6 separate regions of the Homo sapiens genome follow, and regions 2, 3, 4, 5 and 6 are each linked to region 1. The links come from fine-mapping of genetic effects on gene expression. A gene starts in region 1. Each other region holds a variant in brackets. All regions are shown on one strand. Distances are from middle to middle.

Region 1 (5,073 bases):
CAGAAAATTGAGTTAATGCACAACTAAAGGCAGCCAGGACTGTGTAATATCAACTTGATTACATCAAACTAGCTGCAAACCTAATTCTGCTGGATGACACTGCGTCGAGCTTGTCATCTCCAATCATTAAAGCTGTCAGGAATCCATCAGGTTTACAGCTAATTAGGTGAACACTAATGAAGCTGGCAAAACAACTTTTCTTTTTTTATGGCTGAGCGGACCTTTCAGTTTGGAGGGGAAAAAAATTCTCGAGTATTCTCAAGGTTGCTGGGGACTGGATTTCCAGTTACCAATCAGCAGACATCTTTCTTTTCCCCACTCTCTCTCTCTATCAGTACAAAGCAATCAATTTGTCATCACTCCCAGTATGCCACAAAAGCTGGCATGAACCTTATAACTTGCAGCTGGGAAAACTAAAAAAGAGGAGAAAAAAATGGGAAGTTTCTGGTCCATCCAAACAAACAAACCACCCCCAAAAAAAAAACCTCTGTGCATACTTATCACCAGCCTAAATGTGGAGTTTTTTTTTTTTCTCTCCACTCTTCTTAAATAAGTAGCTCTTCAGTCCGCCTCCACCCCCTCCTCCACATGTCCATTAGGCAGAGGCATTCTGATAAAGTAAATCCAAAACCCGAGTATGGGAAAGAAATAAAGCACTCATGCTGCCAGCTTCTGATTGACCATTAAGCTATTGATGAATGTGCCTGTCAGGAGAGAGACAATTAAATCAAATATGAAACAAAGTCGTTTTGACGGGTCATTTTGATAGAGCAAAACCATTCTTCCATCTCCTATTAGTCCTGCAGTCAAGTTTTTTATATAATGAATTTTTCTTAACTGACCTGAGATTTCCTGGCTGGCTTTCTTTAAAAAAAAAAAAAAAGTGTGAAAAGGTTAGTGAACAGGTTGCTCTAAAAATAAATAAATAAATAAATAAATAAAGCCAACAGCAGGTTCCCTCCTCCTCTGATATTTTTCTGGAGGAAGCTATCAAATACGAGTCTCAGATTGGCAGGGTGCAACCGAAGAGATGAACTAGAGAGAGAGTTCTGAACCAAATGTAAAGATGTAATCACATATGGTTCATTGGATGGAGGCACACACATACCTTAAAATGTGTATCCAAAAAGGAAAGAAAAAAAAAATTTCAAAGACTGGAAGAAGCCCAAGACATTCCTACTACTCAACTTTGTGAAGGATTCCTCCAAAGTTTCAGAGTTTATTTTGGGTAGATAAGCTCATTGCTTGAGCCTGGAATTTAAAGTAGAAGGTGGGACGGGCAAGAAGCAAGCTCCAGGAGGTTAACTAGGGAGGCGGCAAGCTCCCTACAATCACTCCTGGAATTTTCAAACTTTCTAAATTTGGGCAACACCGAGGACAGAGAGCAAAACCTGCATCCTAAGCCCCAAACCAACCCTGTTTTCTTCTGAGATTTTCTGAAGACACTGGCAGGCAAGTACATTTCTGGGAGAAGAGAGAATTATCATTCCTTCTCTGTGACCCCGTGTAAGGGGTCTGGAGTGCAGAGTGCAGCCAACGTGTGAGGTCCCCTGGCAGTGCCGGCTGGCATGATGGAAATTATGGGCACTCAGGGCACCATGGCTACAACGCCTTCCTCCAAGATGGGCACCAGCCAATGCCCTGACCCTACTCTCTGCCCTTCCCTCTTAACATCAAAAGAGAAGTAAAAGAAAGGAAGAGAAAAGAAAAGAAAGGAAGCCCCACTTAACCCTCCCCTTCAGGGAGCATCTGAACCTCTGCACATCTGAGTGTTACTCATATCAAAATACATCACGTCCATATGTGGTCCTCTCGGCAATCCGCCCCAAATCCCAAAGTTGCACTGACAGGGCCCTCCTGACGTCACAGAGCTTGGCCTCACTATTGCAAGTGATTTATTGATGTTTATTGGGAATGAATAGATCAAAGGCAGCAGCATGACGGGCGATCAATCAGTCATCAAATCAAGGATGGCAACGGGCCAGAAACCCTTCTTCCAGGCAACATGCCCCCAACCGACATTATTGCAAAATAATGTTATGTGTGTGGTTTTTGTTTTGTTTTCAATGATGCGTTTTCCAGAAAAGAAAAGAAAAAAATCGGCTCAGTCTTAACAGGAGTTGACACTCCCGGTTAAAGAAGAAGAAAAAAAAAAAAAAAGGAGGAACAAAAAAGTACTCAGACACGTCCCAGAACTAAGTGCTATGCGGAGATGAGGGTGGGAGCAGCAGTACAAGGAGGGGGTGGGGGCGAGGAAACACAAACAGGGGAGAAGGAAACGCCAGCATCTAACATGGACTTGACAGTCATCTGACAATACCCAGACCCTGTGCGCTCCGGGTTCCACCGCTGTGCCCAGTTTGGGCCCAAGAAATGAGGAATCAATCGTGTTAGTACTAAGGTGGCCGAGGGGACCGGCTCGCTCACTCGTTCGCGCTCCCTGGCTCGGCGGACACCAGGCAGTCCCCCGGCGGTCGGCCGCTCGGAGGACGCGGAAGATGTCCCGGGGAACTCAGGTGACCCCGCCCGCCACCCACAGAAAGAGCCAGGCCGGGGTTGCTTCCCATTCCCTCTGCAGCCGGAGAGCTGAGGAGGTAGGGACCTGGCGCGGCTCAGCGCGCTCCGCGAGCGGCTCCCCAAATGGGTGCGAGAGGGAAGAGGGCAGAGCGCGGCGGGGCGTCCGGGGGGCGCCCGGTACCCGAGGCGGGCGCACGCACCCAAACAGGAGAGCGGCGCCCGGAGTTACTCAGTGCGGGCAGAAGAGCGGGGCGAGGAGCGGGGTCGCGCCCGCTGGAGGCGCGGGGCGAGCGGAGGAAGAGGAGGAGGAGAGCAGAAGGAAGGGGAAGCGGCTCGTACCTGCTGCGCGCCGGGGCGCCTGCTGCTTCCTCCTCGGCATGATGCTTCTCCGGCGACTGCCACTGCCGCCGCCGCCGCCGCTGCCGGGCTGAGGACAGGGAGGGAGGGGGCGGCGGGCCCGCGGGGGGGCGAGGCGGGCCTGCTCTCAGCCTCCCCCCCGGAGAGCGGCCGCCCGCAGGATGCTGCTGCGCCCAGGCTCTCCGCGTCCCCCCCGCGCCGCGCTCCGCCGCGAACCCCGAACGTGCGGAGGGAAGAAGGAGGGCGGGCGAGGGAGGCTCGGGGAGGGAGGAGCACGGGGGGGAGGAGGAGGCAGAGGAGGAGGAGGTGGAGGAGGAGGAGGAGGACCGCGCTGCCGGCGGAATGGGAAGTTTGACAAATCGCTCCAGAGGCCAGAGGAGGAGGGGGCGGGGAGGAGCGGCGGCCCTGCCCCCCCCCGCCCCGTCCCCAGACGAGGTGCGCGGGGTTCGGGGCTGGGGGGCGGGGAGAGGGCGGGCAGAGCGGTGGGAGGAGGAGCGCGGGAGCGGCCCGGACCGGTACTGCCCCGGCCCCCGCCCCTAGGCCGGGGGTCACGGCATCCGGGGGGACGCGCAGCCGCCGCCGCGGCCCGGGGCTCGGCGGTCCAGTCTTCTGCCCGTGGCGCGGCTGGAGCGGCGGCGTCGGCAACAGGCAAGCTTAAAGGAAAAGGAGATGATCGTGTCAATCGCCCGCCCGCGGGGGCGCCGCGCCCCCGCCCCCGGCCCCAGGCCCGCGTGGGACCCCCGCCCCGCCAGCGAAAGGGGTGCCGCCCCTCCGCCTCCGCCCCGTGCGCACACGCGGGGGCGCGGCGCCAGCCCCGCCGAGCCCGTCCCGGGGCGCTCGTTACCCCCCACCCCTATTCCCACCCAGCGTTCGTCCCCAGCCACCCCCCAGCTGCCCCACCCGGCTCGCACTCCTCTCCACCCGCCGACTCCGGAGCCCCCAGCGTGGTCCCCGGGCCGGGGCTGGCGTCCCCCGGGGAAGCCAGAGCCCACGGGCAGGCCCCCTCCAGGGAGGAGGCGGGCGCGGGCCGGGGCGGGTGGGGGCAGCCCTCAGACCCCGCGCCACCCAGCTCCTCCCCCAGGACCCGCCGTAGCCACTTCCCCCAATTTTTTTTCCCCGGACAAACTTTCCTGGGCCCGTCCCGGGGGTCGGTGTGGGAGGGGGTTCCTTCAAGTTTCCTCTCCTGACTTTGGGATGATCAGGGTCCCTCCACCCCGCCCCTCGCCCCCGGGAGCCGGGCCGCGCCCCCCATCCACGGCGCGGGCCGATCCTAGGGCGGGACGGGGGCGGGAGAAGGAAACCGGGCTCCCCTGCCCATCCCCCGCCAGGGGCTCCCCCCGAGAGCCTAGGGGGCCGCCGCGCCGTGTCCCGCGCCCGGCCTGCCGGGGCTGCTGGACTAGAGGGATTGATTATTGATTGGTGATCGGGGTCGCTGAGGCTCCGGGCCGGCCCGGCCGACTGGCCGCGGCAAGAAGGAGCTGGCTGGGCGGCGTGGGCGGCGGGGCGACGCGGGCTCACTTACGGGCGGCGGTGAGGGCGCGGGTGGGCCGGAGCTCATGCGGGCGACCCCCGGGCGGCGGCGGCTGAGCGGGAGCCGGAGCCCGAGCGGCGCGGGCGGCGGCGCATCGATGCGCTGCGGGCTCGATTGCGTCTCCCTGGGCCAGCTCTCAGGCCGGGAATGGGGCGGCCGCGCCGGGGCCGGCTCCGGGCGCTGCCGGGCGGCGGCTGCTGGAGCGCGGGGGCGGCCTCCGGGCCCACTATCCCCGAGGCGGCCCTGCGCCCGGGCGCGCCGGCTGGGGCTCTGGCGCTCTCGCAGGCCCCGAGGCCGACAGTCCCGGCGAGGGCGGGCGCCCCGCGCTCCAGCACCGGCTGCCTGAGCGCTCCTGGAGCAGCAAACCCCAGACTTCTTCCTCCTTCTCTCCTTCCTTCCTTCCCCCTCCCCTTATCTTTTTCTTTTTTTAGTCTCTTTCTCCCTCTTTTTCTGCCCTGTGTCCTTTTTATTTTTTCTCTACGACTGTTTTTGCAAGTTTGTTTCAAAAGTTCACAGCATGCTTTCTTTTCTTTTAGACCGGGAGACAGTGATCTCACCCACACGGTAAGATCAAAAGTCTCCGCTCGCCCAGCCTGCGGGCTTGGGCTGGGTCCAGACGTCTCCCAGGATGCAGATGCGCCGCCGCTGGCCTCCCCGGCTATAAAGCC
Region 2 (5,073 bases), 37 kb before region 1:
ATGGCCACGGCATCCCTCTCCATGTTCCCATCCTGCTCACGGTCATTTCCATCATGGTACCCACGTCAGAATTACGTGCATCTGAGTCTCATCCTCCACACTCCAACCCCCTTGAGGACTGCCTGTCTTGGTGTCCCTGGCACCTGCCAGCACTGGCTTGAGCAGGTGCTTAATAAACATCTGCTCAAATTGTTTCAACACATACTCCAGTAGCCTGGTGCCCTCGGAGGAATTTGTGATGATGGGAAAATGCATGCAAGTATGTTTTCCTTCCTTGAGTTTGAGCGACATCTCCTTCCCATCCCTGGAACTGTGGGGCCCATTCATTATGTTGTCATGTTGCCCCATCTGCTAAGCCTCCACTCGGTGTCTCAACCTTCTCATGTCTCTTCCCTACTCTGGTCCCAGGTAATGAGCCTCTTTCCTCCAAGCTGCCTCTCAATGGACCAGAAGTGAAGATGAAGAGTCGAGTGACCCAAAGCAAAGAGTGTGGGGCAGATTAGAGGAGAAAAACCACAGTCTTCCTTCATCTTCCTAGGAAGATGTGAGGGTTTGGGGGCCATTCCACATGCATTTCCTTTTCTTTTTGGTGCAGCACCGATCCTGTGCACTGGTGTCCAGGGTGGTCTGCAAGTATCTGCTGCATGGATGAATGGATGAACTCAGGGACCCACTGCTCAGGAGAGAATCCCTTCCACCTTCTTAAAGGAGATGCAGTTCCACCAATCTATGACAAGCTGGAGGCCACATTCCTCCTTCAGGCACAGAATTCAGAATGAATGCAGGGAAAGGGGTGGGCAGAGTGCGGGCTCTGTGTGATGCATAAGTCACAATGTGAAAGGACACTAGGACCTCACAGGCCTAGGTCCATCTTCTGTTCTGTCCTGAGCCACAGCAGGACTTGAGCAAGCTACAAAACCTCTCTACGTTTCTGGTTCTTCCCTTTAAAATGAGAATGAAAGTCCTCTCTTTTAAGAATTGTTGTTAATGGAATTATGCACATAAAGCACTTAGCACCATGCCTGGCATGTGGCAAGCATTCAGTAAAGAACAGTTATTTTGGGGTTACAGAAATTAGAATTTTCCATCAGCAAGGAAGATTCCTGCAGTGACAAGGCCAGGATCTCTAGGGCGACATTTCAGCCCCTCACTGGGCCCCACCCTTGCAGCTGGAAGGATCATGCAATGTCCAGGAAACTCCTGCCTGTGCCATCAGCTCAGCCTCTTGAGACCAGGAAGGGAGGTGGTGCCACCTGGTAAGGTGGCAGCCAAAAGGCTTTCAGCCACCCAAAATTCTCTCTCCGTCTCAGGCCAAGGGTTTCACCAGTAGCAAGTCAGACAGACTCTGGGCTAAGCACTGCCCTGTTTTAGATACTCTTATAAAAAGCAGATAAACTTCAAGCAAGTTGGGATGGAGGGGTCTGAAGGCTGAAGGGGGTTATTAATCCACCTAACACTTTGGTTGTGGATTTATTCATCAGCACTTCCCCTATAGCCCACTCACCCCCAACAAATCCTAGGACAGATCAAGAGCATTCGTGTCTGGGGAGGCAGGAGAAGCTGGGAAAGAGAGAAACAAAATAGGTGCCAATGTGCTGCTGAGCTCTGGCCTGCCTCCTGTCACAGGACCTTCTTGGGGTGAGTCTCGCCTGTGGCCTCCGACTGCACAGGGTTTGTTCCTTATGGGAAGGAGACGTCTTGGTCCTACGGAGTCCTCCAGTACATGCAGAGATGAAGCAGAGGACAGAAGGTGCTGCACTGTGAAGGGAACTTGCCCCTCTGCCCAGCTCACGGGCTCCATACTGATCAATGCTCAGGGGGCATGGGTGGAACATGAGGACTGGAAGATGAGAATCCCGTTTAGGGTCCATTCACTGTTAGGGTGAGAGATCTTTGAGCAGAGCCACCCCTCTTTATTTGTTTGTTTATTTTTGAGAGAGTCTCTCTCTGTTGCCCAGGCTGGAGTGCAGTGGCACTATCTCAGCTCACTGCAGCCTCCACCTCCCGGGTTCAAGGGACTCTCCTGTCTCAGCCTCCTGAGTAGCTGGGACTGCAGGTGTGCGCCACCACGCCTGGCAAATTTTTGTATTTTTAGTAGAGATGGGGTTTCACCATATTGGTCAGGCTGGTCTCGAACTCCTGACCTCCAGTGATCCGCCCGCCTCAACCTCCCAAAGTGCTCGGATTACAGGTGTGAGCCACTGCACCCGGCCAAGCCACTCCTCTTTAAATCCTGGCTTCTCCATGTCATGGCCTTTGAGTCTCAGTTTCCCCATCTGTAAAACAGGCATGGTGACACCAATGTTTCCCAGGGTTGCTAGGAGAGGAGCACTGGACAAAAAGAGTGTTTTGCAGGCTGCTCTGTGCTGTGCACACCACTGCTGAGAAGAGGCCCATCTTCCCTCCCACGGCTGGAAACTATGAATCAGCAGATGCTGGCTTAGGTCAGAGAAATAAGCACAGAA[C/A]CACAAAAGAAGGATCTAGAGCTATGCTGTCCATGGGGCTAATGACTGTGTTGTCCATGGGGCTATATATGTTTAAGTTAATTAAAATTAAACAAAATGTAAAGTTCAGATCCTCCATTGCACTCATCACACTTCCGATGGGGTAGTCCTATCGGACAGCTCAGGGCAGCAAATTCCCATCAGAGCAGGACACTCCATTGCTGGCTGGAGGGGACTTCTCCTGTTGCTTCCTGAACCCCTTGGCTTCCTAATGTCCTCTCTCTTCCTCTTTAGAAAAGACACTTTCCTACAGAAACAGTTATTAACCCTTTTGGGGCTTTCAGGGCCCCTTTGGGAAGTTAATCGAAGTCAGTGTTCGCTGAAATCCAGAATCTTTCAGAGTGTGGGAGGAGTTCCACCGGTGGTACAAGAAAATATGAGGTGGTTCATCTTGAATCACACGGTAATAAATTACTCCCTTGTCAGTTCCATCTTTTTCCCTCTGATTGCTTCAAGGAGAAAGTATCCGGTGGGTGCTATTGGTCTTTAACACCTCCCCAACACTTGCTAATCCCCCTTTTTAAAGAAGAGAGATAAGGCATTAGACTCCGGTAGGAAGGCAAGAGAATTCAGCTAGGATTTAATGACATTGTTTGATTTCACGGCGTTTATTTTTATGGTTATTTTCCCTTTATGGCAAGTGATTCTGGGTCTTCATTTATAGGAGTGACACACTTTCCTTTTAAAAATAAATTTATTTGAGTTAAAACGTGTGTAAACAGTAAGTTCAGGCAGTGCATGTGGTATGCAGAAACGTCAAACAGCATGACAGGTTTGGGACTCAGGATGCCAAACCTGCTTGGGGGCAAGGAACAGTCACAGAGGCTTCCAGAGGAGACTCTGCGGGAAGCCCCAGGTGAGGGCTTTGCTCTGCTACCAGCGTTTGCTGTTAGCATTTCCACACCCGAGATTTGGAAGGGAATTTGTCAGGTTTCTATTAAAACCTCTGAATGTCCAGTTGGAGGAGGTAGTGGTTATTAAACCTCAATGTTCATAAATATGCTAATAAAAATGTAAAATTTGCAGTGAGCCATTATCAATCACAGACAGGATGCTCCACCTTTGAACGATGGCCCCCATGCCTGGCTGCTGACCGGGAGCTGGAAGCCAAGTGTGCACCGCTGGAGGGCAGCGAGGAGTCTGAGCTACATGCCTGCCACGTGCGGATGTGGGCACCTGGCAGGGACTAGGGTGGCCACGCTCCTGGCACTGCGTACCACCTGCCTGTTGGGCTGCGGAAATGGTTCCTGTCCCCACACATATGCCAGTGCCTCTGTGAGGGTGAGGCCCATCCACCTCTCCCAGACACCCAGGAAACAGGCAGCGACATGTGACATGTGAATTCACCCTGAGTTTGGACAGATTGGTGAGAGTCCCCTGAACAACGAAATGCATGGCCGTAGCCATTCAGCAAACGAGAAGGATCCTGGGACTTGAAGGATCCCTGCTCCTTGCCCTAGAAAGGCCCCATCGGAGCCAAGCCTTTCATAGCCATGCACTACCAGAAGTGGGGTATTATCGAGAAGGGTATGGCACTGAGAGTCCGGGTACCTGCATCCTGGCACCGACACTCACTTACCAGGCTGCAACCTGCAGCACACAATTGGAAGTCTTTGCGCCACAGAATTTCACTTGTAAATCAGGTAATACCTTCATCTCGGGTAATGACGGTGAGCCTTTCTCTCTGCCTGCTTCCCAGGTCCACATTTGGGAAAGGCAGGTCAGACCCCCTCGTGCCTGCCTCTCGAGTGGCTGTTGGGCTCACCGGATGCAATTGGAAGATGCTTGGTGGATGATGATGACATGATGACACAGGGTTGCCTCCCTTGTCCCCTAGACAACCAGAAAGGATGCCTCCTTCCGGCTTCTAAGGCCAGGACTAGAGGCCTTCTTTCCCTACAGTCTGCACGAGAGATGCTGAGGCCAGGCCCCAGCCATGCCAGCCTCCTTTGCCAAGCACTGCTACATGCAGGCAAGGGTGTTTCCAGAGCCATGGGAGAGAGAGCGGGCGGCAGGGAGGCATGGTCGGCCATCACTGCAATCCTGAGAAGCCACATGGGCAGCGGCCGGAACCGTGTCTCACCTGCACGGTGGGGCTCTGCCTGCACCCCTGCTTCTGCACAAGTCCATCCCAGCTATCTGGCTGCTCACCTCCTTCTGCCCAACCTTCTCAGGGCCGGGTTTCTGATGCATTGTGAATCATTTCTAATGACAGGATTTCACATCCCCTTGTGATACTACATTCTTGTGCATAACTTGTAATTTGAGTGATTGTGAATTGTTCCGAGTGCCAGATTCGTATTTTGCAATAGATCAGGGTTTTATTCATATGTGAGTGCATAATTTTGCCTCAAGATGCGTTAGATTACATTAATTAACTTTGTAGCCAGAATGGGAGAAATTAACCGTTTGGATGAACCTTGCTCTGTAATCACCGTCATTCTCAGACCCCTTGAGTGTCCACCTCCGGGGCTGTCTGGAAGAGCAGGCAGTGAAATAAAAAGAAGGGGAAGGAATTTGGGGGCACAGCTCCAGGGGAAGGCTCAGCTCATGGCCCCTGGGAGAAGCC
Region 3 (5,073 bases), 45 kb after region 1:
GAACTTTATCAGGGATCCATGCCCACCCCCAGCACACACACACACACACACAACACACACACACACACACACACACGTTTTTGTGGGATGAGTCTGAGAGGACCCTCCAGGGCTGTCCACGTTTCCCACTCCAGCCCTCCTTCCTTTACCTTCACACTTGGCCTCCCGACTTACTCTCAACCCACCTCCTTGGTGTGCAAACTAACAAAATGCACTTTTCTGCCCAAACTCCCCTACATCATTAAGTGACATAGAAAGTTCAGTTCAATACGGGGGAAAATTGAATTTATCTTGGAAATGTTTTATTCTTCCAAAATTTCACTTTGGCAAAGTCTAATGCATAGAAAAGCATGAAATACTACAGCTCCAGACCAAGCAAGTTGTTCCACTAAGCATTAAGCCGCAGGGTCCGAATTCTGCCTCTCTCCCGTCAACCACTCTCTTTAACTCAAATGCCCATCAACGTCCCGGCTAAATGTGAGTTTTCCACGGATCGCATCTTATCATAATGTCACAAAACCCATAGAATTACAAATCAGGTTTAAGGCAGAAAACATGACAGGCAAATATAAGTACACAAAAAGTACATTAAGGATCCATCTTCATTTATTCTCCGCATTCCAACCTACCTCTCCGCGCAGACCCGCTCCGTGCGGCGCTCAGCTTGAAGTAGCCTCAGATCCATTTTAAAGTGGACTGAAATATAAATGACAGTTCACACTGCACATGAACATAGACAACTGTATAAAATATTTAAATAAAGACAAGAAAGAACAGAGGATTGCAGCAAAGCCTTTGGCAGAACCGGCCTTGGGGAATTTAGCAGCTTGAGATTCATTACAAATATCATCTTTAATGTTATTTTTAGTTCAATATTTTGTAGCACTCAGAAGTAAATCTTGGTGCGCTGTCTCCTCTCCCCTGCCTTTCTCTCCTTGGGTGTCTGATCCTTCAGTTGTACTGAAACCTAATACGTTTTCAATAAAATTGATTTGTGACGTCGTAATGCTGTTTGTTTACCATCTCCCATTCCTTGTTGTAATGGGAGAGAACTATTGCATCATTTGGCAAAGTGAGGAGGATTGCTCTTGATTGCTGAATAAATTGACATGAACCTGGAAACAACCCTGTTGCAATGTGAAAATGCTCCATTGAGCCTTCCCTCCCTCCTGCACTCTCCCATTTTGAAGTTCTCGCCTGGTATTCCAGTCCTGAGTGCTAAGGGATCATCTGTCCTCCCGAAAGAGAGCCATTGTCCCAAATATGGATGCAGAAGAGAGAGAAAACTTGGTTTTAAATAATTGCTCTTTGGTTTCTTTCTCAGTGTGACTCTTCATCTCTAGCTAGTTTGCCACCTCAGGAGGAAATTCTAAAAAATGGCATTTGTCCCCAGGTGAGGGGTAGGAGAGGACCAGTTGACTAGAAGCCCTGTTCTGGGGTCATTTTGCAAATTCTTCAGTCTTCCAGGGGAACTGCAGGGAGAGTTAAACAAAGCTCTGTCCAGGAGGCAGCTGGCAAGATGGAAAGGAAGGCAGAAAACATTGCCTTGCTGCTCGGCCAGCTCCTGGGGTGTATGAGTGGAAGCCCTTGAGGAAAGGACAGACCCTAGTGGTTTTTGACAGAGCAGAGCTGGGGTTTCACGTTTGTCACTCCAGGGCAGGCTTTGACTCCTGGCCCAGGGAAGTGAGGGGCTGGGGAGAGAGGCTCAGACGGGAGCTCAGAGCAGCCTGGGAAAGGGATTTTTCAACCCAGATATTAATGGGCCCATGATGTTTCCTAGATGGAGCCCTCAAGGGCAAGCCACCCTCTCTGTGACTTGGTTTCTTCACATCAAAAATGAGTCTGATGCCCTTTGCCCTTGACTTTAGTAGGATTTCTGAGGAAGAAGGAAAAAAAAATTCTCTTTTAGTATTGAAGTTATGTTTACATATGTAAAAGCAAAGGGAGAGAACTCAGGTGGTGATTTGGGTAATTTATAACTAAATAAAGCCTAATAGTGTTTTGTTTATTTATTCGTTTGATTTTTAGAGACAGAGTCTCACTCTGTTGCCCAGGCTGGAGTGCAGTGGTGCATTCATGGCTCACTGCAGCCTCCATGTCTCTGGGCTCAAGCAATCCTCCCGCCTCAGCCTCCTAGGTAGCTGGGACTATAGGCATGCACCACAGTGCCCAGCTAATTTTTATATTTTTCTGTAGAGACAGGGTCTCATTACATTGCTTAGGCTGGTCTCAAACTTCTGGTCTCAAACAACCCTCCTGTGCCTCCCAAAGCACTGGGATTATAGGCGTGAGCCAGTGCACTTGGCCAAGCCTAATCATTTTAAAAACAAAGATAGTTAGATATTTCAACTATGGAACAAAAAAATACCCAACGGTTGTTGTAGTTAGATTTTTGTTGTTTTGTTTCTTATTTATCAAGAGAACTACTTCACCAGATATTGTGT[T/C]GATGTGGCCCAAGGTTAACAGGAAAAATCAGAAGGACTCAGGTATCTGAGAACATGAGTACCCCACGCAGCCAGGATGCTGCCAGTCTAGGAAACTGAGGTGCTGGCCAGGGGAGAGCCAGGCTTATAGAATTCAGAACCGGTTCTGGGTGGCCTTTGGAATGTATTGTGATATGGTTTGGCTGTGTCCCCACCCAAATCTCATCTTGAATCTTAGCTCCCACAATTCCCATGTGTTGTGGGAGGGACCCAGGGAGAGGTAATTTCATCATGGGGGCCGGTCTTTCCCATGCTATTCTCATGATAGTGAATAAGTCTCACGAGATCTGATGGTTTTATCAGGGGTTTCCACTTTTGCTTTTTCCTCATTTTCTCTTGCCACTACCATGTGAGAAATGCCTTTTGCCTCCCGCCATGATTCTGAGGCCTCCCCAGCCATGTGGAACTGTAAGTCCAATTAAACCTCTTTTTCTTCCCAGTCTCAGGTATATCTTTATCAGCAGCATGAAAACAGACTAAACAATAAATTGGTACCAGTATATTGGGGTGTTGCTGAAAAGATACCCAAAAATGTGGAAATGGGTAACAGGCAGAGACTGGAACAGTTTGAAGGGCTGAGAAGAAGACAAGAAAATGTGGGAAAGTTTGGAACTTCCTAGAGACTTGTTGAATGGCTTTGCCCAAAATGCTGATATGGACAATAAAATCCAGGCTGAGGTGGTCTCAGCTGGAGATGAGGAACTTGTTGGGAACTGGATCAAGGGTGACTCTTGATATGTTTTCACAAAGAGACTGGTGACATTTTGCCCCTGCCCTAGAGATTTGTGACACTTTGAATTAAGAGAAATGATTTAGGGTTTTTGCCAAAGTAATGACTATTACTTTTGCACCAACCTAATAGCAGAAGTCAGGTGCATGGACTGCAGCCTGCTAAAGGCTATCTGGTTGGCACACCATCAGCTACAGGCAGCAGGACTTTGCAAGTGAAATCTCTTTCTACCATTTCTCTACCAATCTTCAATCTGCATTCTGGACCGCAAAGACAAGAAAGCTCACTGTGCCACAGTCCGTTTTGAGCATATCAGAGGATAAGCATGCTACATAATAATGGGTCAGGCAGAAGGAAAAGCTGACTTCTTGCAGCTCACATCGTAGGAGAGGAAAGGGTCAAGTTCAGAGCAGCAGAGGCACTGTTTTTGCCTTTTTTCCCGTGACATGACACCATTCCACTTAAGTAGCTGCTGTCAGATTCAATGAGAAAATACGTGTAAAGCATTTTACACACTGTCTGGCACATACTAACCACTCAATAAATGTTAGCTTGTTATTATTATCATTTTCCTAAATGGAGAGGTCAAACCAATTAGCTGAGATTTTCTTTTTAATGAAAACTCTGATGAGTTAATCATTGTGAGGTAGGGAGGCTTTGAAACCCCTGTTAACTGGGATGATTAAAACATACTTGATTAAGCTGAGGCAGTGACAGCATATAGATTTTCTTACAGGCCAACTCCAACCGAGTCATGGTGGTGGCCACTATTGTTAAGAAGGGTTCTGAGGCTGAACAAGGCTTAGGACGAGGGAGTTTTCAGATGAATTAGTCACATGTGCCTTGCACACCAGAGATATGTGGGCAGGGGTGATACATGACATTCCTGTCCTTTGGAATAATCAGAATTCATGGCTTTTATTAATCATAGAGCTTCAAGAAAACAGATTAGAAAGGCTGCTTAGCTCCATAAGCTGCAAATGTTAGAACAGAGGTAAGATGAGAAAGAAGTTTCCAGAATGTGCCAAAGGTAAATATGCTTCTTCAACGTTGTCTGGATTTTCCCAAGAAGAAAAAGGAGGAGAATGGTGATGAGAAGAAGATGGAGAAGGAGAAAATCCTTTAAGATATGACTTACAGAGGCATTATAAACTGAAAGGATCAGCGTCTAGAATGTGTGCGTGTGTGCGTGAACACAGAAAACCATAAACAAATAAGAAAAAGACAAACACCTAATAGAAAGACAGGTCAAGGCTAAGACTTCTTAGAGAAAAGCCAATGATCAATAAATAAAAGCTGCTCGATTTCACCAGTGGTCCATGCTGTGTGAACTAAAACAGCATTCTATGGCTCCAAATTGGCAAAACTTTTGAATCTGACAGTATAAAGGATTGGGAGGATGTGAGAACTGGGTAGGGGTGCACACAACTCACAAGCCCTTAGGACAGCAAGTTGGCAACCTCTAGCACAGCTATAAACGTGCCAATCTTCTGCTGTTCCAGCATTTCCACACTAGGTGTGTACTCTCAGAAAACGACAGTCAATGAGTCCCATGGAAGGATGCTTCCCATAGTATGGTGCAGTAAACATCAAAAGCCAAAACTAGCCAGACAGCCCCACAACAGGGAAATGGTGCATAGCGACCAGACACAAGATGTATGGTTTACCTCTGAGTAATAGAGAAGTGTCCACGTCATGTTTATGTAGAGAACAAGTATGGCACGGAGGACAGTCCCTCGTCTTCTACCAATGCCGTACGTTTTCCATCTAAATACAAAGAACATGTCCTGAAGGCCACACACCCACAGATAATTATGATAATACAGAATATATGGCGGATTGGGATGGGAGAGGGTCAGA
Region 4 (5,073 bases), 120 kb before region 1:
CACTCATTTTCCTCCTGCTGTTGCCTTATCTCCTTACCCTTCCCAATCTGGCTTAAAAGCGGTGTGTCAGCTGGGCACGGTGGCTCATGCCCGTAACCCCAGCACTTTGGGAAGCCAAGGTAGGTGGATTGCTTGAGGACAGGGGTTTGAGACCATCCTGGCTAACATGGTGAAACCCTGCCTTTACTAAAAATACAAAAATGAGCAGGGTGTGTTAATGGGCACCTGTAATCCCAGCTACTTGGGAAGCTGAGGCAGGAGAATCACTGGAATCGGGAGATGGAGGTTGCAGTGAGCCAACCTCATGCCACTGCACTTCACCCTGGGCAACAGAGCAAGACTCCATCTTAAAAAAAAAAAAAAAGCAATGTGTCCATATGATGCTGTCCCCAATTCCTCACCTCCTTTCAATCTTCAACCCACTCTTTCGACTCCTTCAATTCCACTTCTTCCCATACCATTTGATATGGTTTCTGTGTCCCCACCCAAATCTCATCTTGAATTGTAGCTCCTATAATTCCCACGTGTTGTGGGAGGGAACCAGTAGGAGATAACTGAATCATAAGGGTGGTTTCCCCCACACTGTTCTCATGGTAGTGAACAAGTCTCACAAGATCTGATTGTTTCATAAGGGGTTTCCTCTTTTGCTTGGTTCTCATTTTCTCTTTGCCTGCCACTATGTAAGGTGTGCCTTTTGCCTTTTGCCATGATTGTGAGGCCTCCCCAGCCACATGGAACTGTGAATCCATTAAACAACTTTTTGTTTGTAGATTACCCAGTCTCAGGTATGTCTTTATCAGCAGCGTGAAAATGGACTAATACACCATTCCATCAGAACTTCCCTGCTAACCGCTCTAAATCCTATATTCCATTCTTGCCTTCCATCTGAGCACCAACCACAAGTCAACATCTCTACTTGAACACCCTGTGTTCAAGACATAAGGTGACCATATGTCTTCATTTGCTCTGGGAAGTCTCTATTTACATGTGGTGTCCTGGCATAAGTAGTCACAGCACCCCTTTCAGACTCAAAAACATCTTAGACAATAAATTTTAAGGTCACATATATTAGCAGATATAGGCATCTGTGATTTGTCTGTCCAATCTGTTTATTTCCTTATTTTCATTTTTTGCTTTTAGAGAACTATCCCTTGCAGATACTTTTTCTTTTTTCTTTTTCTTCTCTTTCTTTCTTTCTTTCTTTTTTTTTTTTTTTTTTTGAGATGGAATTTCTCTTTGTCATCCAGGCTGGAGTGCAGTGGTGCCATCTCGGCTTACTGCAACCTCAGCCTTCCAGGTTCAAGCGATTCTTGTGCCTCAGCCTCTCAAGTAGCTGGGACTACAGGCCTGTGCCACCATGCCTGGATAACTTTTTGTATTTTTAGTAGATATGGGGTTTCACTATGTTGCCCAGGCTGGTCTCGAACCCCTGACCTCAAGCCACCCACCCGTCTCAGCCTCCCAGAGTGCTGGGATTACAGGAATGAGCCACCACGCCTAGCCCAAATACCTTTTCAAAATTGTCTGGTCATATGACAGATCTACCCAGAATCAGATTGGTATAAAGAGAGTTACTGAGTCAAAAGTGGGTCAAGACCATTCACACCCAACAAATTTTGCTGACACAATTTGAGGAGGAAAAAAACCCTATTTTCTCACTGGAATTGCTATGCTGGTAGAATAGAATAGAAGCCTGAAGAGACTGGGCCAACTCTGCCACCAAACTTAGGGAGAGCCTGCTAGAAGAGAAAGGCAGCACAGTGAAAGCACAGCTTACAGCAACAGAAGGGGGAAGAAAGAGAGGATGGGAGGGAAGAAGAGAGAGATCCCTAATGCCAATGTTGAACACCAGGGGCTGAAAATCTGTTCCACCTGTGGGCTTTATATTGCGTACCCCAAAACTCTTCTTTTTCACTCAGTAAAGTTGGAGGTAGGTTTCTCTCACTTAATGACAAGACATCCAGGATCTACACAAGCATGCCTTGAACTCAGCTCCAGGCAGTCCTATCCCTGCTGTCCCCAAATCTATTCCTACTCCACCTTTCAAATCTCAGCAACCATCCAGTTTCTTCTGCCAGAAACCTTGGAATCATCTTGGACATCTTCCCTTCTCTAGCGCCATCATGAAATCTTATTGGTTTATTTTTATGACCAACATATGTGTAAACTCTGGTTCCTTCCCTCCATCCACACGGACCCCCAACAAGTCCATAAAACCATCATCTTACCTGGGCAACTCAACAGCCTCCCAGTGGGTCTTCCCATGGCCATTCTCACTCCTAACATTCTCCGTGGAACATCTAGAGTCATCTTCTTAAACTTCAAATCTGCTTATGGTGCACAAGGCCATGCTTCACTGGGGAGCTGCAAGGAGAGTAGAGGGAGCATTGCCAAGTTAAGTTAAGAGCTTCAAGACATTATTGAAGCTCTTGTAATTCCTGAATTCACCAATACAAATTCTATTTCAGGCTGGGTGTGGTGGCTCACACCTGTAATCCCAGCACTTCTGGAGGTCAAGGTGGGCAGATTGCTTGAGCCCAGGAGTTCAAGACCAGCTTGGGCAACATAGTGAAACCCTATGTCTACAAAAATTACAAAATTTAGCTAGGCATGGTGGTGTGTGCCTGCAGTCCCAGCTACTCCAGAGGCTGAGGGGGGAGGATCACATGAGCCCCGGAGGCAGAGGTTATGGTGAGTTGAGATCACACCACTGTACTCCAGCCTGAGTGACAGAGTGAAACCCTGTC[T/TA]AAAAAAAAAAAAAAAAAAATTATTAGAGACAATATTAGCATGGTTCCCAAGAATATGTGTCTTATTTTTCAATCATTATTTGCTTTATTGTGTTTCAATCAGAAGCTTAGGGTCAAACTTTCTTCCTTGAGCTGGGATATTTGAACACTGAAGGTTACTAGCACCTTCCCATGGACAGATTGCAGAGAGTGGTGTTCAGATTTTAAATAAAAATCTCTACCAATGCTGCCAGGATGTTAAGCAGAGCCTGCACAGAAGGATTGTACATGGGTCAGTGACTGCAGGGTCATTTGTAGACCCTGGTATTTGAAGTTTCCTACAGAACCTTCCTGGAAGTGAGTGTTCTCAAAGGAGGGGCATGCACTACCTCGCCACTCTAATCTTAGATCCTAACCTCTCTCCATCTCCTCCTTCCTCAAAACAGACCTGTGGGTTCCAAATTTGATTGAAACTGAGTCCAGTAATATTAGTCCTACCTGACTGGGATGCTGTCCTGACCCAGTGGTTTTAGAAGGGAGTTTTATAGAAGAAGATATGAGAAGGGTAAAATTAGAGGGGTGCATGCATGTTCCTGAAAGAGAAGACTAAACATTGTAAGGGGGCCATTGCCTCAATTTGTGTATAAGTCTATTATAATTCCAATCCAAATTTTAATAAAGTTTTCTTTGAAACCTGACAAAATGATTCTAAATGTTGTCTGGAAGAATAAATGAATAAAATAATCAAGTAAAGTTTGACCAAACAGAAAGATTAGAAACATTTGCAAGGACATTAAGATAGATTCTAAAACTACGACAATTAAAATAGAATGTTATTGGACCAAGGATGGGCAGGTAGAAAGAACATTAAGAATCTATTCCATAATAGGAGAGCTTTTTCAAGTCTCTGGGGGAAATGATGCGGGGACAACTGCGAAACACTAAAGATAAATTGATTCATCACTGCTTCACACCACATCCTAAAATAAATGTCAAGCGGATTATAAATTTAAAAATACATATACAAATGAACTAGAAGGAAATATAGGTGCATGTTTATCTGATCTTGTAATGGGAAAATCTTTTAGGTAGTGTATTACCATAAAGTAGAATCTTGATGAAATTGATCACATGTAAATTCAAATATTCTGCCATAACTATATCTAAGAGCAAATAGGAAACTGGAAAAAGAAACTTGCAATGTATGTAACAAAGGGTTTACATTCTTAAGTCTCTGAAATGTCAATGTGGACAAAAGACATGATTAGAAAATTCACAAAGGAAGTACTAACAGCAAAAATATGAAAAATGTTTAACTTTGCAAGCTGTCAAAGATGTGCAAACTGAAACAATAGTGAAACACGATTTTTCAGCTATTACACTGACATTTTCTAAAAAAGAAAAGATTATGTAGAGCCTGGGAAAATGGGCACCCACAGATTGCTAGGATGATCCTAAAGTGATACAATTGTTCTAGAGGGTAACTTGGCAAAATTCTTTAAAATATGTGTAGTTCATTTACCCAGCAATTCCTCTTCTAGGAATTTATCCTCAGAAAATAATCATAAATAACTGCAGAAATTTATTTAAAAATGTTCCCTGGAAGGTTGTTTATAAAAGCAAAAAATTAAAAACAAAATAAACGTCTGAAAATATGCAGCTGCTTAAATAAAGTATGGTGCATTATAATCCAAGGTCATAAAAAAATCATACTGAGAATTATGTAGTGACTTCAGAAAAGGTTCACAATATATAGTTAAATGGGGAAAAAAGTTGCAAACCCATCTGTACATTTCATTTTTTTGTTTTTAAAAAATGTATGTATGTAAATATATGCATAGAAAAAGACTTTAAGAGGATAACCAAAAAGTTATCAGTGATTATCTCTGGGCGGCAAAAGTGTTGGTGATTTTCATTATTCCTCAAATATTCTGCAATAAAAATGTATTACTTTTTGTAACAAGATTCTTAAAAACATTAACTTTTATTTAAATCCTGCAGAGAAGTCAGGTATCAAAAAATGGTCTTCAGGAAGCTTTTTCGGGGAAATTCTTACAGCCAAAAACTGGGGAATTGCTGGGGAAAGTGGTCAGACCTAAATGCAGCTGAGCTAGGAGAAGACAACCCACCTCTCAGGGCCACGGTCCTGGAGTCAGCAGCCCCATCACTACCCCTGCTTCCCATCACTGCTTTTTTTTTTTTTTTTTTTTTTTTTGAGACGGAGTCTTGCTCTGTTGCCCAGGCTGGAGTGCAGTGGCCCAATCTCGGCTCACTGCAAGCTCCGCCTCCCGGGTTCATGCCATTCTCCTGCCTCAGCCTCCCAAGTAGCTGGGTCTACAGGCTCCTG
Region 5 (5,073 bases), 560 kb before region 1:
TCAGAGAAGGCCCAGATTATAAATCTTTCCCCCAGAGCAATGCAGTTTCATTGTACTTAAAAATAATTAAACAAATCTGTAAAACATGTTTCCATTGCATTAGTTTACTTCACTTGGCCCCGCAATGTGAGGATCATAATTACTTAAATATTTCCCTTTACTATTTTTCAAAACATTTTTCTAAATTGTCGAAAAACATTCTGGAGACAGTTGGATAAAAACATAGTGAACATGTGTCTGATTAATTTTTTAAGACAATCGAGATCAAATGCAAAAAATGATTGGAAATGGTTTCAGAGTGACAATAAAAGACAGAAATCTCAGAGCGGGGAGTGCGGTGACTCATAAGGCAGAAAGGATTTATCATTTTTACTACAGTATTTATTTGAACGCACATGACAGGGAGCGAGCTGGCCTGGTGTGCAAATTGCCAAAGGTGGAGTGTGGCCCGAGGAGGCTGTGTCCAGTTAGGGCCATTCCCCCAAGTGGGCTCCAGGACCAGGCTCTCTCCTGATGCCGAGCTTGTAAAACAAGAGATCACTCTCAGCAGCCATTCTTTGTCTCCTGTCATTACAAACAACTCGAGGGCAATCCGCTGGCTTCTCGACAAGCAGATCTGTCCCTCATCTGTCAGCTGACAATCAGGCCACCATCCCGAGGCCACCGCTCGGGCTGCCGGGTGATGGAAAGCCACTTGTCAAAGGAGGGTTGATGATGTTTACTTACAAGCACTTCCTAAGCTTGAACTGAATTTCATTTGACTTTATTCAGTTTATTTTGTTGAGTCCTTTTTTTAAAACTTATTTTTTAAGTTCCAATAAACAATAGAGATCACGGAATGTGATTTCTTTTTCTAGCAAAACAGTCCTACCCTTCTGCCCTCCTTCTCTAGCATCCATTGTCTGAGAAATGTCACAAGGGGAAGAGAGGCCGGGCCTCCCTCTGAATTCTTTGCCCTTCCAGGGGTGATACGGTTTGGCTGTGTCCCCATCCAAATCTCATCTTGAATTATAGCTCTCATAATTCCCACGTGTTGTGGGAGGGACCCAGAGGGAGATAATTGAGTCATGGGGGAGTTTTCCTCCACACTGTTCTCATGGTAGTGAATAAGTCTCACGAGATCTGATGGTTTTATAAGGGGTTTCTGCTTACACTTGGCTTGCATTCTCTCTTACCTGGGTGCCTTGTTGGAAGTGTCTTTTGTCTTCCACCATGATTGTGAGGCCTCCCAGCCATGTGGAACTGTGAGTCCATTAAACCTCTTTTTCTTTATAAATTACCCAGTCTCGGGTATGTCTTTATCAGCAGCATGAAAACAGACTGACATAAGGAACTCCAAGAAGGTTCCAGGCGGGGACACTGCAGCCAGATCATCTATCAGTTTGAAGGATACAACCCCTATTTTGCTGAATGAATTTGGGTCTCCAAGCATGGAGGTGCGTACGCTAGGGCTCTACCCTAAATCCCAAACTGGAACTCTTTTGAAGGGACCTCAACATATTGAAGGTCATGGCCCTATCAATCATTCTCATATCCCCATGACATTTTCTTTATTTTGTCCTTAAGACAATTTGTATTATTTTTTATAGTGCAGAGACTAATATGCCTTTTTGTTTGAAATGGCCAGATATAGGAGGTTGTTGTCCCAGGTTTCACATCACAGATAAGTATCTTTGTTTCAACTGGAAGAAAAGGACAGGCAATGGGGGCCGGTCTTGCCCGTGATGTCCCAGGCCATTCTTGGCACCTGGAGTTGGTTTGAGTAGGACCCTAAGTCCTGGATTCTGGGAGCCTGGGCCCTGTATCATTTGCTGAGGGCAGTTAGGCATCGTCTGCTGGAAGTTGGGGTGCTCTTTGGTGGCCCATGCACAGAAGGGAATTGTCAGGCTGGAGTGAGATAAAGTGATTGTCCACCTGGTACTCACTGGCCCATAATCTATCCCTGGGAAGCTGTGTTCAGGGCTGGAAGGTCAGCTTTATTCCCTGGTCACCCATGCTCTTACTGCTTCTGAACATAAGGAACAAACAGCTCACCTTGGCCGGAGGTATAACATGTTCATGGAGGTGAACCAAATAGTTAGAATTATATACAATCATGGCTTGGCCCCTTGATGTTCATTCAAGTCAGGTAGAGGGTGCTCTAGGAGCTCACAGGTAGTGGGGGATGAAAAGTGGATGTGGGTGAGAGAGGGTTGAACACACACACGCCACACTCAGGTGGTGGGCTGGGCCAGTGAGCACCTTAGGCTGGTGCCTAAGGAAGATGTGGGAGGGGCTGAGGCAGGGAGTGGCCTGGGAGGATGATGGCTTCAGGGAGAGCTCCTGTCCACACTGCAGGGATATTTGCTGTGCTGCCCTGAGATTTCCAAAATCTAACGCTGAACTTTATCTTACTTCTCTCTTCTCCAAGACTTGAGTTTCTAAGCTTTGAACATTGTGGTGGTTTGGATGCATTTTGCAGCCATAATTTGGTGAGGATTTCTTGCCAATCTTTGTAATCATTGGAGGTCCTGGATCCCGAAGATTTAAGGGTAGGGGCCCAGACCTACCACCCAGAGTGCTGAGTGCCTGTGGAAGCAAGAAGCAGAGAAGGGGGTTGGGGCAGGGAGCTGCAGCCTCACGTGAGACACCTCTGCCCTGCTGGCTGCACCCCTCCCTTTTGTTGCCAATTCTTTACCTACTAAGGTGCAGCCAGATGGAAAGAAACCTTGAGTTTAACTCCTTTCTTGAGAGTGGCATCAATCATGTGCCACCTTTGCTAGGGAATCCGAGGGCCTCGTGAATAATTCAGAAATGCTACATAGAATACTTGTTACTCCCAAGTGTTAATGAAAATATCAAGGGAATTAATTAACAGTCAATTATATCAATTTTAGAGTTGGACATTGATTCTGATGCTGAGAGCTAAATCTGAATTTTTGCTACAGTTCCTTTTCCTAATTCTCAACTTGTCTTTGTCATTTCTAGTCAAACTTATAGGGGGGAACATGTTTGAATTATTTTCATTGCCTTGCTGTATTTCAGCTTACTTCTGATAAATAAAGATTAAAAAAAGAACTGGTCCAGTATTACATATTTTCTACAGCTGTATGTGTACATGTAGAGGTGTTATCTTGGTCTTTGTATTA[A/C]ACTGCTTGGGGGAAAAGGGAGTTTCAAACTATGGATAATACATTACCAACAAAAGCGAAAAAGCAAAAATAACATGCATACTATTTGCATAGAAATGTACATATTTTACCCAGACCATCACATGGAAGAGCTCACAAGAGATGAGAAGATGGAAAAAGAAAATTGCAGGTAGTGTTTTCACCAGTTGTTGATGACAATGGGAGCATAGGAGTCTGTCCATCCTGAATGTGTGACAAGTTTTCTAGGCATTTGTTAAACTTCACATATGAAGAGATTTTTCAACCCCTCTCTGATCTTTGATATTAAGAAAAAGCATTTCATTGAAAACAGTCTTTGCAGGATTTGGCACGAGTCGTCTAGACTGCTTTATGAAAAATGACAGCTAGTAGAAAAGTAATTAAAGATGTATTTTGCTGAAAGCAAAAGTATTTTTGGAATCAATACCAACTATCTTTAATTTGCCAGTTCTTTCCACAATCATTGTGTGTTATCTGGAGGATCTCAATTCTAGAGAACGGAGGTGCCAGCCCCTTTCTGGTCTTGCTTTTACGTCCTCTGTCTGCTTCCTCACCATCCTCAAGTAAGGTTAGAGGAGGGCTGGGCAGGGAAGAAGAGGCATGGTCACTGTGGTGGAGCAGGAGCCAGTGGATCTCTCCCAGGAAAGCCAGCTGCTCAACGAGCTCCTCCCAGGGCAGCAGAGATGTTTGAAAAGTAGCAGCAATGAATCCAGGTGCAGCAAAAGAAGCGGTTGTTGGTGGTGGTAACTCTGGTTTTAAGTTGGAAACAAAAGGGGAAGGCAGCTTCATTTATGCTTTTGAGAAGTTTTGAGGCAGAAAGACAGCCCTCCTAACTCTTCTCCTCTCTTTGTTGTTGTTTTGTTTTTTTTGAGACAGTCACTCTGTCACACAGGCTGGGGTGCAGGGGTACAATCTCAGCTCACTGCAACCTCTGCCTCCCAGGTTCAGCCGATTCTCCTGCCTCAGCCTCCCAAGTAGCTTCGATTACAGGCATGAGCCACCATGCCTAGATAATTTTTGTATTTTTAGTAGAGACAGGGTTTCACCATGTTGTCCAGGCTGGTCTCATACTCCTGACCTCAGGTGATCCACTTGCCTCAGCCTCCCAAAGTGATGGGATTACAGGAGTGAGCCACTGCGCCCGGCCTCTTCACCTCTCTTTATGGGAAGCATTTGCCTTAGCTGGTTGGGAGCTCCCTGCAGGTGGTCAGGGCTACTCTTCCCATTTCTGTGCGAGATACCAGGTAAACCACATGTACTCCATATGTGCTTGGGTGTGGCTTGATTGATGATGACAAGATTAGGCTCCCAGCCTGCAGGGTCCCCTTTTTGGCCCTATTCTCCCCTTCTCTCCCTCACATATCCTTTCTTCACCTGCCTGACACTCACTCATCTTTCAGGAGTCAGCTTAGATGACACTTCCTCCAGGAAGCCTTCTTGGAATGCCTCACCACCCCAGTTGCATCTCAGAAGATCAGCTCTTTTTCCACCCAATTCCATCACGCTGTATTTGGTTAATGGTCTAACTTCCTTAGAATTTCTGGGGACAAGGGCCAGAATTTTCTCACCAATTTTCTCCCTTTCCTAGTATGGGGCCTTGTACTGTACTCCTTGTGTTTGAGGGAGTCAGAGGCAGGGGCTGAGGACAACAGACAGCATATTGTAACTGCAGTCATGTTTCTGCCATGTGTTTCTCTCACCCTCTTAGCCTACAGGTCTCTGGGTCCATGGGAGTGGTCCCAGGGTTTGAACAGACTGGCCTTTTCCAGGTCTCTCTGTGTTAGAACATGAAGGCCTCTTCCCTCTCAGCACCAGAGAAAAGCTGGGGTCAATGGGCAGTGAGCCCTCCACCACTAGGAGGACACTGGGAACCCGGCACTCGTTAGGACTGATGGGCAGGTGGATTGAGGAGGTGAGGTGACTGAGG
Region 6 (5,073 bases), 100 kb before region 1:
AAACTATATAGATAATTAAGTGGGTAATTTCATTTCCTCAGTGGATTTTTAGGCATATTTTTGAAATGCATACTTCTCTACTTAGCCAGTGACTTTCCTCTCACATATGGCAGCCCTGGTCTTTGAATCTTCACTTAAAATTTGTCCCTTCCAGAAGACAGCTTTAGTATTAGTCAGGGTTCTTCAGAGGGACAGAACCAATAGGATGCATAGATAGATAAGTGAGAGGCTATTTATTAAGGGAATTGGCTCACATGATTATGGAGGCTGAGAAGTCCTACAACAGGCCATATGCAAGCTGGAGACCCAGGGATGCCTGCAGCATGGCTCAGTCCAAGTCCAAAAGCCTCAGAACCAGAGAAGCCAGAGGTGTAGCTTGAAGTCTGAGGCCAAAGGCCTGAAAACCTGGGGCAGGGGTTGCTGCTACACATCCTAGAGTACAAAGGCCTGAGAATCTGGAGTTCTGATGTCCAAAGGCAGCAGAAGATGGGTGCCTCGGTTCTACGTGAGAGAACCTGGAGTTCTGATGTCCAAAGGCAGCAGCAGATGGGTGTCTCAGGTCTAGAAAACAGAATCTGGAGTTCTGATGTCCAAAGGCATCAGAAGATGGGTGTCTCAGTTCTACGAGAGAGAACCTGGAGTTCTGATGTCCAAAGGCAGCAGCAGATGTATGTCTGAGGTCTAGGAGAGATAATCTGGAACTCTGATGTCCAAAAGCATCAGAAGATGGGCGTCTCAGTTCTAACAGAGAGAACCTGGAGTTCTGATGTCCACAGGCAGCAGCAGATGGGTGTCTCAGTTCTAGGAGAGAGAACCTGGAGCTCTGATGTCCAAAGTCAGCGGAAGATGGGTGCCTTAGTTCTAGGGGAGAGAAAGCACAAACTCAACTTTCCTCTGCCTTTTTGTTCTATTTGGGACCCCAGCAGATTGGATGGTGCCTGCTTACATTGAGGGTAGATCTTCCCATCTCAGTCCACCAATTCACCCTCCAATCTCCTCCAGAAATACACTCACAGATGCACCCAGAAATAATGCTCTATCAGCTATCTAGATATCCTTTAATCCAGTCAAGTTGATGCCTAAAATTAACCATCACACCCTCCTAAACCAACCTGTCTGAAGCCTTCAATGAAAGGAAAGATGCACATATATCTGTAGCTATAACTACTGACTGTTTATATGGATTAAGAGAAGTATAGTACTTCATACCTGTCATTGATGGATTTTTTTTCTCCACTGCACTTAGAAGAACTACAACCCCAAATTCCTTAGTCTGACCTTGGCACAATTCCATGCTTGGTCCCTAGTCATTTCTAATCCATGTTGGTAACTCAACCTACAATTATACTGTTACACACTTACAGACTTCACTTAAAACAAGTCTGTGGGATTTTTGCCATAGTCACTCCTAACTATCATCCATCCACTCACCCCTGTGTAGTCAGGGTCCCACTGTATCACACCAACCCATGCATGGTATCCTATATCATATAATGCCCTGAACTTTCCCGTGTCAGAGGGAGGTGAGCCCGGCAGGCTGGTATTATAGTGGTGACCGCCCTGCCGCCTGCATATGGGATGAGTCCTCTCAAATAGCAGAAGCAGAGGGGGTGGGGGCAGATGCATGTCCCACCGACACAGGATACCATCCTCGGGGGCTCCGTGCCTCCCCTGCCAAGGTCAGGGTTGTTCAGATGATATGGGGGAGCAGCGGAGTGGTGTTCATCGAGCTCTGGGAATGGGAGCTGGGTCCCCTCTCTGTGACCTTAGGAAGCTTATTTAACCTCACTGACTCTGTTTTCCTCATCTGCATTTGGAAACTTGATGTAACAATATCAAATCATGATTTCTCATGTGGAATACACTTGGAGGAGGGCGGTTTGCACTGTGGTTGCTCTACCCTGAGGGTGGTTATCAGCAAGGCCTTTTTAAAGTAGACTTGAGCTTTAGGTATTAAGAACCTAAAACATGTGCATAACTTTTGGCCTGGGATTTCTCTCCATTTTTAGGTCTGTGTTCCAAGGAAATGATCAGTGATATAGTTAAATATTTGCATTCAGGGATGTTATTTGAAACTTTATATATAACAATGACAGTGTATGATATAATTTGCATCTGTGTCTGCACCCAGATCTCATGTCAAATTGTAATGCCCAGTGTTGGAGGTGGGGCCTGGTGGGAGGTGATTGGATCTTGGGGGCGGATTTCCTCCCCATGCTGCTCTCTTGATAGTGAGTGAGTGAGTGCTCATTAGATCCGGTTGTTTAAAAGTGTGTGCACCTCCCCACTCTCTCTCTTCCTCCTGCTCTGGCCATGTAAGACATGCTGGCTTCCCCTTTGCCTTCCACCATGACTGAAAGTTTCCTGAGGCCTACTCAGCCATGCTTCCTGTACAGCCTGAGGAACTGTGACCAATTAAACCTCTGTCATTAAACAAGAAGCTACTTTTATAAGAAATTTTATAAGAAATTCTCATAAATTGCCCACTCTCAGGTATTTCTTTACAGCTGTGAGGGAACGGACTACTATAAAGTATATCAGTATAAAATTAGCCTACATCCAAATATGGAAGATTGCC[C/T]AAATTGTGATTTATCCACATAATGGGATATGTATACGGTCATTCAAAATCATTTCTTTTTTTTTAATTGAGATATGGCCTGGCTCTGTCCCCCAGGCTGGAGTGCAGAGGCATGATCTCAGCTCATTGCTGCCTCGACATCCCGGGTTCAAGTGATGCTCCCACTTCAGCCTCCCAAGTAGCTGGGACTACAGGCACATGCCACCACACTTGGCTAATTTTTGAAATTTTTGTAGAGACAGGTTTTCACCATTTTGCCCAGGCTGGTCTTGAACTCTTGGGCTCAAGACATCTGCCCACCTCAGCCTCCCAAAGTGTTAGGATTATAGGCATGAGCCACTGCTCCTTGCCTAAAATCTTATAAAGAAAATTTAATATCATTGGAAAATGCTTACAATATAAAGCAGTCAAATAAATACTCTATGTAATTTGTTATGTATGTATAAAGTATATAGGAAAATATTCACAGTGTTATTATCTCTGGATGATAGTGTTGATTGTTGGTGATTTATTATTTTTTTCTTTATTATAATATTCTATATTTTTCAATTGTTGCAAGTCAGTATACAATAAACAAAAATCTTACTTACGAAAAAATGTTGGAGTTAAAGTCTGGGGTCTGGATTTGAGTCCAGGCCCCAACATTTGCTGTGCAACCTTAAGTAGGAGAAAGCTGAAAAATGGGAAAAACTTGTCTCACCCTTCTCATTGGATAGGCAAGGAACTAAAATAAGATAATGTGCACAGGACTCATGTGGAAGGAAAATGGCAAAAAAGATAGGGGGGCTATTGCTCATATGAATCTGACTAGGAAACAAGAAGCTGCTCTTAAAAGAAATATTGATGCTTACAAGGTTTCAGGTCACCCCTATCTCCTCCAGCCTATCTTTAAAATAGACAAAATTCAAAACAAAACAACACAAAATCTCACGCAGAAGGTTCTTCTGCCTGGTAACAGAATGCTTCTGTGTAGTTAAAACACAAGCTACATCTGACAACTGCACTATCAGATGGGAGCTCTGGACATGTGAAAATCATTGCTCCTGTACTGTAAGACCTGATAGAGCCCTGGTCAGCCACCAGCCTTGCAGAGGATTACATGGGGTCTCCATACAAAGCTGGATGCTTCAAGATAGTTGCAGTCTCAAGAGTGCATTCCCTGCCTCTGACGGAGTGGTAGGGGCTGTTACAACCCATCCTGTGGTGCCCAAGAAGACACTCAGCATTCATTGCAGGTAGTGTGGCCCCCAGTGCAGCCACATTGGAATCCATTTGTAATATTTATTTAACTAGAAAATATAAACGTCCTAAGTCCCAACAATCCTACTTCTCTGCAGCAACTCTAGGGATGTATTTGCTGATGTGCATGAAATGGCTGGGCATTCCTTTTAAGTACTACATGATATTCCATAGATGAGGCATGCTAAAATAGTATTCAGACCTCAGAGACTTCTCTTATTGTTCAGCATCTCGAGTTAAGCTGCAATGAAGTGAATCGACATGTCACAACATCAAAAGTCTCCAAGAGTTTGTTTTTTTTAAATTTAAAAAAGTATGTTGCTAATCAGAATATACACTATCAAATCATTTATATAAAAATAAGTCAAAACACTACAATTCTAATTTCTGTGGGTGTATAAGGCTCAGAAAAATGTCTGGAAAGATTCATACCAAATTGATCATATTGATTAGACCTGAAGGTATGGGTGAATGTGGAGGATACAATCTTTCTTACCTGTATTTAAAATCATTTTTAAAAAGAATGTGTTCATGTATTACTTGTGCAATTCACATAAATTTGACAGTAAAAATTAAAATAGCTGACATAAAATAATTATGAATAGTCAACAACTGAACAAACAAATAAATATACTATAGTCATTCAAAGCCAGGTTTCTCATTGTTGGAGAAAGGAGTATAAAATTGGAAAGGGGAGGAGGAGACAGAATAAGCCCTAAGGTGCTGGATTGAAATTGAAGTTATAAGTAAAAACTCATGGTTTAAAAAGGGACAGAGGAAGGGAGGAAGGGAGAGAGAGTGAGGGAGGTCAGGGGAGAGAAGGAGAGAGATAAAGAAATTGTTCATATGCATACGCACAGAGGACCTGGAAGCAATGGAACTCCAATAGCAACGAGCATACTTAGCATGGAGGCGTTTCTTTCTATGTCATTCTCCTCTAAGAGAAGACAGGGCCACTTACAAAATGGTCATTGCAGGCCTGCAACCGAGAAAGCACAAGATGAGCCTGAAACTTCTGGTCCCAAAAAGTAAGGAAATGCTCAAAGAATAACAGGGACATATCAAAAGGACAAAGAAGCCAATTTGCAGAGACTCCCACTGGCCAAATATGAGGCAAATTTAGCACAAAAATAAATAATGATTGAAAATCATGATTTATTGAATGAAATAAGCATTCACCAGTTACATGGATATAAATAAATAAATGAAAAAGAAGGAAAAGCTCTTCCTTGCAGTAGAAAGACAATTAGTAAATG

What was found. PIP is the estimated chance that this variant, and not a neighbour inherited with it, causes the effect. A credible set is the group of variants that fine-mapping cannot tell apart.
Region 2: its variant is the best candidate, but not a certain one, in a credible set for the expression of TSHZ3 in blood mononuclear cells (TOPMed, PIP 0.77).
Region 3: its variant is the best candidate, but not a certain one, in a credible set for the expression of TSHZ3 in whole blood (TOPMed, PIP 0.52).
Region 4: its variant is the best candidate, but not a certain one, in a credible set for the expression of TSHZ3 in whole blood (INTERVAL, PIP 0.57).
Region 5: its variant is the best candidate, but not a certain one, in a credible set for the expression of TSHZ3 in whole blood (INTERVAL, PIP 0.86).
Region 6: its variant is the best candidate, but not a certain one, in a credible set for the expression of TSHZ3 in whole blood (TOPMed, PIP 0.60).

Annotation. Positions count from the first base shown.
Region 1 is chr19:31,346,324-31,351,396 of GRCh38, forward strand. It overlaps TSHZ3 (teashirt zinc finger homeobox 3), which reads right to left and starts at 3,113. Exons shown (of 2, transcript NM_020856.4): 1 at 2,857-3,113. The coding sequence starts at 2,896. It overlaps TSHZ3-AS1 (TSHZ3 antisense RNA 1), which reads left to right. Exons shown (of 3, transcript XR_002958388.2): 1 at 1-2,594.
Region 2 is chr19:31,309,811-31,314,883 of GRCh38, forward strand. All of the region lies in intron 1 of TSHZ3 (teashirt zinc finger homeobox 3), which reads right to left. Among named protein-coding and RNA genes, the nearest start is that of TSHZ3-AS1, 9.5 kb to the right of the region's middle. The variant C/A (reference allele first, on the strand shown) is at 2,466.
Region 3 is chr19:31,391,658-31,396,730 of GRCh38, forward strand. The region is part of intron 1 of TSHZ3-AS1 (TSHZ3 antisense RNA 1); the gene reads left to right. Among named protein-coding and RNA genes, the nearest start is that of TSHZ3, 45 kb to the left of the region's middle. The variant T/C (reference allele first, on the strand shown) is at 2,445.
Region 4 is chr19:31,225,777-31,230,849 of GRCh38, forward strand. It overlaps a transcript of TSHZ3 not described here. Among named protein-coding and RNA genes, the nearest start is that of LINC01791, 61 kb to the left of the region's middle. The variant T/TA (reference allele first, on the strand shown) is at 2,748.
Region 5 is chr19:30,790,771-30,795,843 of GRCh38, forward strand. No RefSeq gene overlaps it. Among named protein-coding and RNA genes, the nearest start is that of LINC01834, 110 kb to the right of the region's middle. The variant A/C (reference allele first, on the strand shown) is at 3,129.
Region 6 is chr19:31,242,015-31,247,087 of GRCh38, forward strand. It overlaps a transcript of TSHZ3 not described here. Among named protein-coding and RNA genes, the nearest start is that of LINC01791, 77 kb to the left of the region's middle. The variant C/T (reference allele first, on the strand shown) is at 2,579.